Linked DNA regions of Homo sapiens: regions 2 and 3 are each reported to be linked to region 1. The links are microRNA targets in miRTarBase. Many come from high-throughput screens and were not tested one by one. Region 1 holds a microRNA gene; each other region holds the end of a gene's coding sequence.

Evidence for each region. Region 1 holds the annotated microRNA hsa-miR-4645-5p (ACCAGGCAAGAAAUAUUGU, at 2,577-2,595, opposite strand). A microRNA usually pairs through its seed, bases 2 to 8, with sites in the 3' UTR of a target mRNA and lowers its output. Matches are read on the target gene's strand: a 7mer-m8 pairs with bases 2 to 8, a 7mer-A1 pairs with bases 2 to 7 and ends in A, and an 8mer does both.
Region 2: miRTarBase lists UBA6 as a target of hsa-miR-4645-5p. The part of its 3' UTR that is shown has no 7-base or 8-base seed match.
Region 3: the mRNA of ARC is a reported target of hsa-miR-4645-5p. Seed matches in the 3' UTR shown: 7mer-A1 at 2,589-2,595 and 7mer-A1 at 1,981-1,987.

What each region holds. Positions count from the first base shown.
Region 1 is chr6:2,851,503-2,855,856 of GRCh38, forward strand. MIR4645 (microRNA 4645) reads right to left here and starts at 2,605; the gene lies at 2,529-2,605. It also overlaps the pseudogene SERPINB9P1. RefSeq lists enhancers at 840-1,029, 2,325-3,065, 3,642-3,701, 3,762-3,891.
Region 2 is chr4:67,616,384-67,619,383 of GRCh38, forward strand. UBA6 (ubiquitin like modifier activating enzyme 6) reads right to left here. Exons shown (of 33, transcript NM_018227.6): 33 at 1-2,749. The coding sequence ends at 2,614. Among named protein-coding and RNA genes, the nearest start is that of STAP1, 59 kb to the left of the region's middle.
Region 3 is chr8:142,610,248-142,613,247 of GRCh38, forward strand. It overlaps ARC (activity regulated cytoskeleton associated protein), which reads right to left. Exons shown (of 3, transcript NM_015193.5): 1 at 2,237-3,000; 2 at 1,861-2,005; 3 at 802-1,610. The coding sequence ends at 2,834. Among named protein-coding and RNA genes, the nearest start is that of ARC, 2.7 kb to the right of the region's middle.

The DNA.
Region 1 (4,354 bases):
ATTTTTTTAGTAGAGTTGGGGTTTCACTATATGTTGGCCAGCCTGGTCTCAAACTCCTGACCTCAGGTGATCTGCCCACCTCGGCCTCCCAAAGTGTTGGGATTATAGGCGTGAGCCACCGTGCCTGGCCAATTTTTTGTATTTTTTTGTAGAGACGGGGTTTCACCATGTTGGCCAGGCTGGTCTTGAATTCCTGGCCTCAGGTTATCCGCCTGCCTGAGCCTCCCAAAGTGCTGGATTACAGGCATGACCCACCAAACCCAGCCCAAATATATTTGCATATATATATATTTTAATATCCCACGCCTACACTCTGGGATAACTCAGCTCTTACAGGCAGTAATCATGGGTCAGACCTGCCATTATCCAGTTCAGCCCATTTCATTTGACAGACACCTGGTGAATAGAGACATGCAGGGACTCTTGTCCACATTTGCCCAGTTGGCTGATAGCACAGTGTACAAAGTCTGTCTGCAGCAGGTCATAATTTCACAGCTCTGCCACATGCATGTATATCACTGTACCAAGCGTGTTCACATGGTATGGTGCTGACACATGTTGACGGAATGTGGTACAGACCCTCTGTGTGAAGTGTGTTCACACAGTGCGGTGCTGACCCTCTGTATGAAGCGTGTTCACACGGTGCGGTGCTGACTCTCTGTATGAAGCGTGTTCACCTGGTGCAGGACAGACTCTCTGCATGAAGCATGTTCACACAGTGCGGTGCTGACCCGACCCTCTGTATGAAGCATGTTCACACGGTGCAGTGCTGACTCTCTGTATGACACATGTTCACACAGTGAGGTGCTGACCCTCTGTATGAAGCATGTTCACGTAGTGCAGTGCTGACTCTGTATGAAGTGTGTTCACACAATGAGGTGCTGACCTCATGTATGAAGCATGTTCACACAATGCGGTGCTGACCCTCTGTATGAAGCGTGTTCACACGGTGCGGTGCTGACTCTCTGTATGACACATGTTCACACAATGCGGTGCTGACCTTCTGTATGAAGCGTGTTCACACAGTGCAGTGCTGACCTTCTGTATGACACATGTTCACAGAGTGAGGTGCTGATCTTCTGTATGAAGCATGTTCACATGGTGCAGTACTGACTCTCTGTTTGAAGTGTGTTCACATGGTGCAGTGCTGACCTGTATGAAGGATGTTCACGCGGTGCGGTGCTGACTCTCTGTATAACACATGTTCACGCAGTGAGGTGCTGATCTTCTGTATGAAGCATGTTCACACAGTGCAGTGCTGACTCTCTGTATGAAGTGTGTTCACACGGTGCATTGCTGACCTTCTGTATGAAGTGTGTTCACACAGTGAGGTGCTGATCTTCTGTATGAAGCATGTTCACACGGTGCAGTACTGACTCTCTGTATGAAGTGTGTTCACACGGTGCGGTGCTGACTCTCTGTATGAAGCGTGTTCACACAGTGCGGTGCTGACTCTCTGTATGAAGCATGTTCACACGGTGCGGTGCTGACTCTCTGTATGAAGTGTGTTCACCTGGTGCAGTACAGGCTCTCTGCATGAAGCATGTTCACACAGTGCGGTGCTGACCCTCTGTATGAAGCGTGTTCACACAGTGCATGTGAAACCAGAACCGACAGTCGAACCCAAGCAGAAGTCTTGACCAAGCACTTCCCTCCTGGGAATGCACCATGATATCACCACACCGAAGTCCAGGCTGGCAAATAGGGACATTTAAGTGACATTTAAGCTCGTGGTGGCCCTATGAGGAGTCATTGCTGACTGAGATGGGATTTTAAGGTGTTGCCTGCCTGTGTGTTCTCAGACCCTCTCCTGAAGCCCCACCCCTTCCCCTGATCCTCTCCTGGGACCCCCCTCCCCTATCCCTGACCCTCTCCTGGAGCCCCCCTCCCCCCTCCCTGTCCCTCTCCTGAAGTCCCCTCCCCTGACCCTGTCCTGGGACCCCCTCGCCTTTCCCTGACCCTCACCTGAAGTCCCCTCCCCTTTCCCTGACCCTCTCCTGGAGCCCCCTCCCCTCTCCCTGTCCCTCTCCTGAAGTCCCCTCCCCTGACCCTCACCTGGGACCCCCCTCCCCTTTCCCTGACCCTCTCCTGGGACCCCCTCCCCTTTCCCTGACCCTCTCCTGGAGCCCCCTCCCCTCTCCCTGTCCCTCTCCTGAAGTCCCCTCCCCTGACCCTCTCCTGGGACCCCCTCCCCTTTACCTGACCCTCTCCTGAAATGCCCTGCCTGCACCATTGTCTTATATTTTTCTCATGGTTAGACTGGGGTTATGGTTTTTTCTGGGAAAGGCCACAGAGGTAAAGTGACATCTCATTGTGTCATATTCAGGGTCCATGCCATCAACATGACTCATCAGTGCTGACGCGGTGATGACCTGGGGGACGCAGTGTTTCTCAGGTTCCCCCACTGAGCCTCTGCAACTCCAGTAGTGACAAACCGCTCCACCCCCCGCCATCCATTTTCTTAATTGTTCAATTGCTAGTATCACATTTCATCAAGAGACGCATAGCAGAGTCCAACCAAGACTCCATGATAGAGAAACCAGGCAAGAACTACTGTCTCGTCGCAACTTGAGGAGACAATATTTCTTGCCTGGTTTCCCTATCATGGAAACTGAGTCCCCCACAGTTTCGTTTCCTCAATCGAGCTAATTACTGAGGTTGCTTAGCAGCCTCCGGAGTGAGCACAGCGGAAACTATCATTAGGGAACTTTGAACGTTTCTGTGAAATGCCAACAGGAAATGTTTCGGCATTTTCAAAATATTTAGAAAATTCCCTGTTCAGTTACAAAAGTGAATCTGAATCTTACCCTGCAGAAGTTAAACTGCTCCCTCTTCTGGATAAAATTACCTTTGTAATTTCTTTTTACAACCTACAGCCTATTGTGCTTGGGTTTCCAAATGGTTTAAAGTTCCCTTGTCCCTTACTTTGTGTCAAGGGGGTGTTTGTGCCTTAAAGGGAAGATCCTGTGCCTTAAAGGAAACCAGAACTGATAGTCGAACCCAAGCAGAAGTCTTGACCAAGCACTTCCCTCCTGGGAGTGCACCATGATATCACCACACCGAAGGCCAGGCTGGCAAACAGGGATGTACACGCAGGGGAGACGAGAACTTCTCCCGTGAGAAACAGCACAGTCCAGCCATATGAACCCACAGCTCAGGAAGTATTGCTCACTTTTACTGTTCTCTCTTAGGGAAGGGCATTCTCAAAACGTTTCCGCACAAGCAGACCATCCCTTTTATTTTCCCCGTCTGTCTCCTTTCCTTCTGCTTTCAAAATGTCTCAAGAGTATTTACAAGAGTTGAGCAACACAGGCATCTTTATCTGGGGTCTTTATCCACAGAGCAGAGGACAGGAAGTCATCACTACAGAGACGAAGCGATGTATGGTTTGACCCAGTGGAGGACTTTGTTAAGGTGGAGGTGTGAGTGTGGAGTGTAAACGTGGGACATCCAGGGCAGTGGAGGGTAACCACTGGAGAGGAAGTCTGGGGACAGTTTGGGAGCAGCCAAATATAAAATAAGCATTTCTGTTCTAAATCCAAATGAACATTCTACGCTGCTGTCATCTCCAGTATACCTCAGAGATCCTAAAGTTTCCTGAAGTTGTTTGGAAGTCACGGCCGATGTAAAGTGAAAGCGCACACATATCTGTAAGCTCTGAGCTCAGGATTTCACGTGAGGTCCTTTGTTCGGGAGGCAGGGGGGTTCTCCCTGTTGCTGGCTGAGGTCACTGCATTCATAGTGTGACAGGAGACAGCACAATACAGCAAAGCAGCTGGAGGGATTGCCTTGTAGAGTGGAAGACCTTCCGCAGAACAGAACGCTCTCTGTCCTGTTCTGCTGGAGAATGAAAAGGGATGGGTGGCCTGCGTGAAACCTCTTTATGGGGCTTGTGCGTTCTGACACTGTGACCGCCGAGGCCACAGCTGCCTTTGTTTCTTCCTCTCTGACCTCCATGAAGGGCTAGCGCACAAACTTGGACAGGGACGGCTCTATCTCTTGGGTGATATTCTGGAAAAGTCAGTCTTGACTTAGTCAAAGGCATCGGTAATTCCCCAACAGCTGAGAGCAGACTCCATGCTGCGGTTTTCTTGTAACTTGAATCGAGGAGACTTCCACATCTTTGCTATCCATTGCGCCTGGCTTTGTCCACTCGCTGACTTCTTCATATATAAGCTCATTTTCCACCTGGAAGAAAAGAGGAGAGAGCCTTAGGGCCCCAGCATTGGGTCCGCACCGAGGCCTACACTGCTCCCCCCATTCCCACCTAGGACCATGGCATCCCAGTCCTCTCTCCCTGTGGGAGGCTTTCACAGAGGTTCACATGGGCCCAGGCCACTATGATTTTCTGAGT
Region 2 (3,000 bases), not on the chromosome of region 1:
GCTTTTTTAATGTTCCATGAATATCACCAGAGTGTGACATAGTAGATTAAAAAATAAAGATATACATTTATTTCCATGTCCTACCTTTGGGACAATTTATGAGGAACTTATGGACAAGTAACAGAACTGCTTTGAACTCTAAAAAGAAATGGACTTTACAAATCCCTAACCAGTAGTATGGGATTTACCAGATCCTCTAGGTTTTACATGGTCACGACTATTTCTCTCCAACTGTTTTAAAAGAATTTCCTGGAGCCATCTGAGGACATTTGAGGTAATGTCCTTCCACACCTAATAACTGCTGTATCTCCATGATTGCAAACTTGAAAATCAGGAAACACCAAAGCAACATTACTCACAAAATAAACAGCAAAATCAGAATCTCTGGAGTCAACTTATGAAACATGATTTACAAAGATATTCTTACATTTCTTAATTTATTTTTAATAAGTAAAAAATACTCATTGAAACTGTACAAAAATCAAATCATTAATTTTTGCACCTGGTATTTCAGTCATCAACAGCAATCTCATGGTACAGAAATAAAATAATGGGAATTATCATTAACTTCACCCTGGCTTTCTAGCTTAGTAGAACCAAACAGAAGAAATCATGGCAATAACCATTAACTATAGAAAAAAAGTAATGGAAAAATGGTTGCAGGTTTAATCACAAAATGAACTTAATTTTTGTTGATTTTGTTTTATCTGCTAAAACACTAATATCTATAAATATGAACTGACAGCATCGTTCTAAATTTACTTCTGAAGAGCTGTCGAGACTTCAATAAAATATAAGCAAGTTACTGGATCATATTTATGGACTGCTGAATTAACTACCCGAAAAGTATCAGTTACTTTCAAAGAACACAAAACAAAGTGAACGTGGAAAAAAGCCTTCTTTGCAAAAGTCCTTTTATTAGTCCTATCCTCTAAAATTCCAAGCCACAGAGCCTTGATATTCCTGGATTCTGTTTTAAGTAACCTTAGTTTTAAATATGACACTTGGGATATGCACAATGGGAAAGGGTAGGATATGTGAACAAAATTTAATTTCTTTTTTCCAAAGGTAGTCATTTTCTTTAAATTCATCCTATCCACTTTTGCCCACTTCCCCATGTACAGATTATCCTTTAGTCATACAAATTCACTCTCCACTTCCACATACATTTTCCCCACTTGATGGTACTTTTACAAGAGGGAAACAATACAGCTGGTTGATAAAGTAATTTAAACTATTTGTAAATGAAATAAAAAGAAAGTAGGTATAATACATAGTGTAAAAGATACCAAATTGGAGTAATATTGATGTTAATCTAGTTTTTTATTTAACAAAGTACCTACTAATGGTCTGAGCAGGAGAGTAGAAGGAAAGGAGCTAGAGGGAAATTACTTCCTATGGTTAAAAAAAAGCCAACTGCTTCAGAATGCATGACAGTCTTAGTAATAAAAGAATCATTTACTATTTTCACTGAGTTTACAGTGTTGGGTACTACTGTTTACATCATTTTAATGAAAGTATTTATAAAAACATCTGCAATAGTTCATATCAGAAAACAAAGTTTCTCTCAATAAAGACCTTAAAAAATAAATTTTTATCTTCATTAACTCCCTTTCTGGGAATGGGAATGAAATAACATGCTTCTGTTTAAAAAAAAAAAACAAAAAAAACACAAAATTTAATACCCTAATTAGGTTTCTGGAAAAAAAAAAGACTACCCTAGCAATAATTTTTAACATTCTACATTTCATCTATTTCTAAAGACACTCCCTTTACAAAATCTTTTAGTTTTATATATTAGGACAATCAGGTTTAGAGTCTCACATAAATAAAATAGCCACATTAGAAGGCATACTGAAGAATCAAATGGTTAGCCACATTTGTCTGTTCACATTCACGGATTCTCTAAGAGCGTTGTGAGAGTCCATATAATACTGTTCACGTTTAGTCTAAGTTAATATGTCTCATCTGACCTATTGCTCCTACAACACTGATGCTATCAACAAAAATCCTGATTTTGGGGACACAGTGATATAACAAACTGGTTAAACGAGCAGAGGTAATAGGACAGTAAACTGTAACTGCACAATTTAAAATATCCACCCTTCATCCACCACTACCATACTTCTTCCCAGTGGTATTAAATTCTCAAAGCCAAATCATATCAGAGGTGCAGGATGCCAAACACTATTTGCATAGAAAATCAGTCTTCAAGACTAAACAAAAAAGAAATTCATAAAATTAAACTTTTTGAATAGTTGCATTCGTTGCTTTCAATTTCTTCATCCATATCTGTTCTGGTCATACATATTTTTTCCTTCTTTTTATCCAGAGAGATTAATACACAGATTAATACACAAAACTTTTGTAAATAGCATTCCAGTTCAAAGTTGCTTGTGATCATAGCCACGTGTGAACCGTTAGACAAGTGTATGCTATGCCCCAAAATGTTTTATAATTCTTCAGTGCAGTTTCTTACTGATGTTTCCCTTAAAATTAAGGCTTAATGAAAGAGAAATCCATAGTATTATGAACTGATTTTCTTTAGCTTCTGAATTAAGTGCACTCTTTCCAAAATCAAGTGGTCCTGGAGTAACGTTAAGACAACTTGTATTAATCAGTGTCATGACTGAAGTAGTATCTTACTGGAGGTCCCGGCAAATCTTCATCTCCATCAATGTCTGGAGCAAATGACACAGTAAGATCCACATATTTCTTTTCAGTAGTAGGTTTTACAAGTTTATGCATTCTAAGAAAAATAAGCAAGAATGAATACTTTGGTAAATTCTATAAAATGAAAAAATGATTTGCTGACTAATGCCATCCAGAGAACCTGGACTTGTATCTAGACTTTAACATCTAATAATAATCTGCTTTCACATATTCATTTTTCTTTACTAAAAGGTCTGAACTCATTTATACTCAAGACACTCATTTACCTAACAGTGAATAAATTTGGACACACTGGTCATGATAAAGAATACAAACCATTTATTAAAA
Region 3 (3,000 bases), not on the chromosome of region 1:
CTAGGAATCGTGTCTCCACAAAGGCAGGGGAGCCTGACCTCCCACAGCCCCTCGGAATCCAGTGCCCCCATAAAGGCAGGGGAGGCTGACCTCCCACAGCCTCTTGGAATCCAGTGTCCCCAAAAAGGCAGTGGAGGCTGACCTCCCGCAGCCCCTCGGAATCCAGTGTCCCCACAAAGGCGGGGGAGGCTGATGTCCCGCAGGGCATCAAGTTACCCTTGTTTCCAAGTTCTTCAGCACAGATGCTCTGAGGATAGATGCCCTGCTTTGCAGATGAGGAAACTGAGGCTCAGAGAGACCAAGTTCATGATCTGGCAACCAGGAATGGCCAGGGTCCCCTCCCAGCTGGGGTCTGCACTGACTAGGTCCACAGGGCTCCGGAGCCTGAGATGGCTGTGTGGGCCAAGCCCTAGTTGTAATCCCCCCATGCACCCAGCTGTACACCCCACGTGCCAGTAGGACTTACAGAGGGGCAGGCATGAGCTCAGCATGAACAGGGCTGCCCCAGTCAGCAGTCACCCTCACTGATGGCCACCTCGGGCCTGGAGGCAGGGCTGAGCTAGGCCTAGTGGGCTGCAGTGGGGCTGTAGTGGGGCTGCAGTGTGGATCCCTGAGGGTGCTTCCCCCTGAGGATCCAGGACCCTGATGGAGGCTGCCCTGTTGGTGCTCCCCCGAGCCCCCGGAGACCTCTCACTACACCCATGGGGTCTCCAGGGTGACCCTCTGGGCCGGGGGACCTGTGTCTGCAGCTCCACCCCTGCCCAGCCCAAGCACACAGAAGAAACAACATGAACACTCCAGGAAGTTTCAGTGTTTTATTAACAAAATCTTACAAAAAGAGTCTGTCTCTGGGGTAAGGTGCACAGGGCCTGGACCGACATTTAAGGCCTGGTCTGTGTGGGGCAAGGGGCAGGGGTTGGCCACAGCCTCATGAGGTTTCCAGGGTCTTCACAGGCTCCAGGGCTTCCCCAAAGCCTGTGCCAGCCTTGAGGATTGGTTATGGCTTATGTGCAAAAATAAAATCTGTGGGGCTGGCAGGGTGTGGGCTGAAGACTTGTCAGAGTGGTCTGCAGGGCTGGTCCCCCAGTGGACAAGGCAGAACGATGAACCCTGAGCCAGCACCTGCTTAGGCTGCAGACGCTAGTGGCCCACCAGCACCAGGGTTCTGGTGTCGGGGCAGGGCAGAATGCCTGGAAGCGCCCCAGGAGCCATGGCTTCTGGGATGTCCTTCCTGCAGCTGAGCTCAGGGCTGCTGGGCAGGGGTAGGAGCTGTGGCCCCAGCCTTGGGGCTCATGAAAGCCTCTGGCAGAGAGGATGGCCTGGCAGCGGGCGGGGTTTCCCTGCTGGGAGGGAGGCAGGGCCCGACTCCTGCTGCAGTGGCTCTGGGGACGGGCAGCTGGCGGCCAGCGGGGCGGGCTTAGTGGCAGGCCCTGGTCCTCGCGCTGGCGCTCAGGGCTAAGCTGGGGCTCCTGCCCTCTGCTGCAGCCGACTCCTCTCTGTAGCCCCCCTCTGGGCTGTCCTGGGACTTCGCCTCCCACGCAGGCAGCCTGCAAGGTGAGGGGTGGGTGGTGCCCAGCACAGCAGCAAAGACTTTGTGGGAACCTTGAGACCTGAAAGAACAGGAGAGTGGGCAGTGAAGGACCACGCAGGACAGTAGCCAGGGCTCCATGGGGAGGGGCTGGGGCCGGTGGATGGCGCTGGTCTTCCAAGGCAGAGGCCCCCCGACCCCGTCAGAGCCTCCCAGCGAGCCCGAACACTGGGGAGTGGCCTGGGCCGCAGGGTGTCTGGGGTCTGGGGAGGAGCTCATTTGGCCGGGACAGCTGATGGTGGGGTCTGGGTGGAAGGGTGGTGCTCCGTTACCTGTTGTCACTCTCCTGGCTCTGATGGTGCCAGCTGCTGCCTCAGCCGGATTTGAGGACTCAGCCCCTCTGGGACCCTCCGCCTGCCATGGGTGAGTCATGAGCTGAGCTCTGATTCTTCTCCAGGCGGGCGTGAATCACTGGAGCTGGGGGAGAGAAAGCGCGGGTCCATGTGAGAGCTGGCTCAGCAAACTGCCCCTGCCTCCCACCCGGCCCACTCTCCCCAATGCCCCCTTCCATGATGCCAGCCCCACCCCATCCCTTTGGCTAACTTGCTGGGGGCCCAAGCCTCAGTGGGCTCTCCTAGAAAACAGCCTCCGGATCCCGCCAGCTCTCAGATGCCCCACAGCCGGTACTGCCTTGGGGCAGGGGCTCACCTGAGGGGCCAGGAAGCACCGGGACATCAGGTCTGCTCTGCTGCGTGTGCGACTTCTACTCTCCCCTGGGAGGAGGGGGCCGCGCTGCCCGAGGCTGGCCAGCTGCCCTGGGAGGCAGGGAGGGCGTCAGCTGGCTCTGCGGATGCCGGGAGAGGGCGGCGGCGCCGGAAGTCGAGGCTCCCTCAGCATTGGCTCTGCCCTAGCTTCTGCTCTGGGTGTCCCATGAGCTTGGTGGCCGCTGGCCCCTGCCATCCGGACACTTGGTTTTCTGGATGTCCAGAGGGCCTGGGTGTTGTAGCAGAATGAGGAAGCTGGGGTGTTCTGTGATGGCCTGAGAGTGTGGAGGGTGGGGTCCAGGCCGGAAAGACAGACGGAGGGAGGGTGATGGGTGGAGCCCTGCAGGGGGGAGGGCTCTTTGCCGCTGGGTGCGGTGCTCACATCTGGATGACACGAGTGTGTGCGAGTCCGCCCGGAGCTCGAGGGGGCACCCAGCTGGACCAGGGCTTCCCCTGCAGGAGTCAGCCCCAGCTCAAAAGTCCTGGTGGGCAAAGCCACAGGCTGGATGTAGTGGGCAGGCTGGGGGCTCCGGGATGCCCTCTACTCGGGCTGGGTCCGGTCACTGGCCACGGACTCGCTGTTGGGGGCGGGCGTGAGGGTCTCCGCCTCATCCTCCACCGGGAGGTGGGGGCCGGCCGGCTCGGCCGCCTGCTCCAGGTCATCCTGCACCTCCATGCCCCTCTGGATGAGCTGCTCCAGGGTCTTGG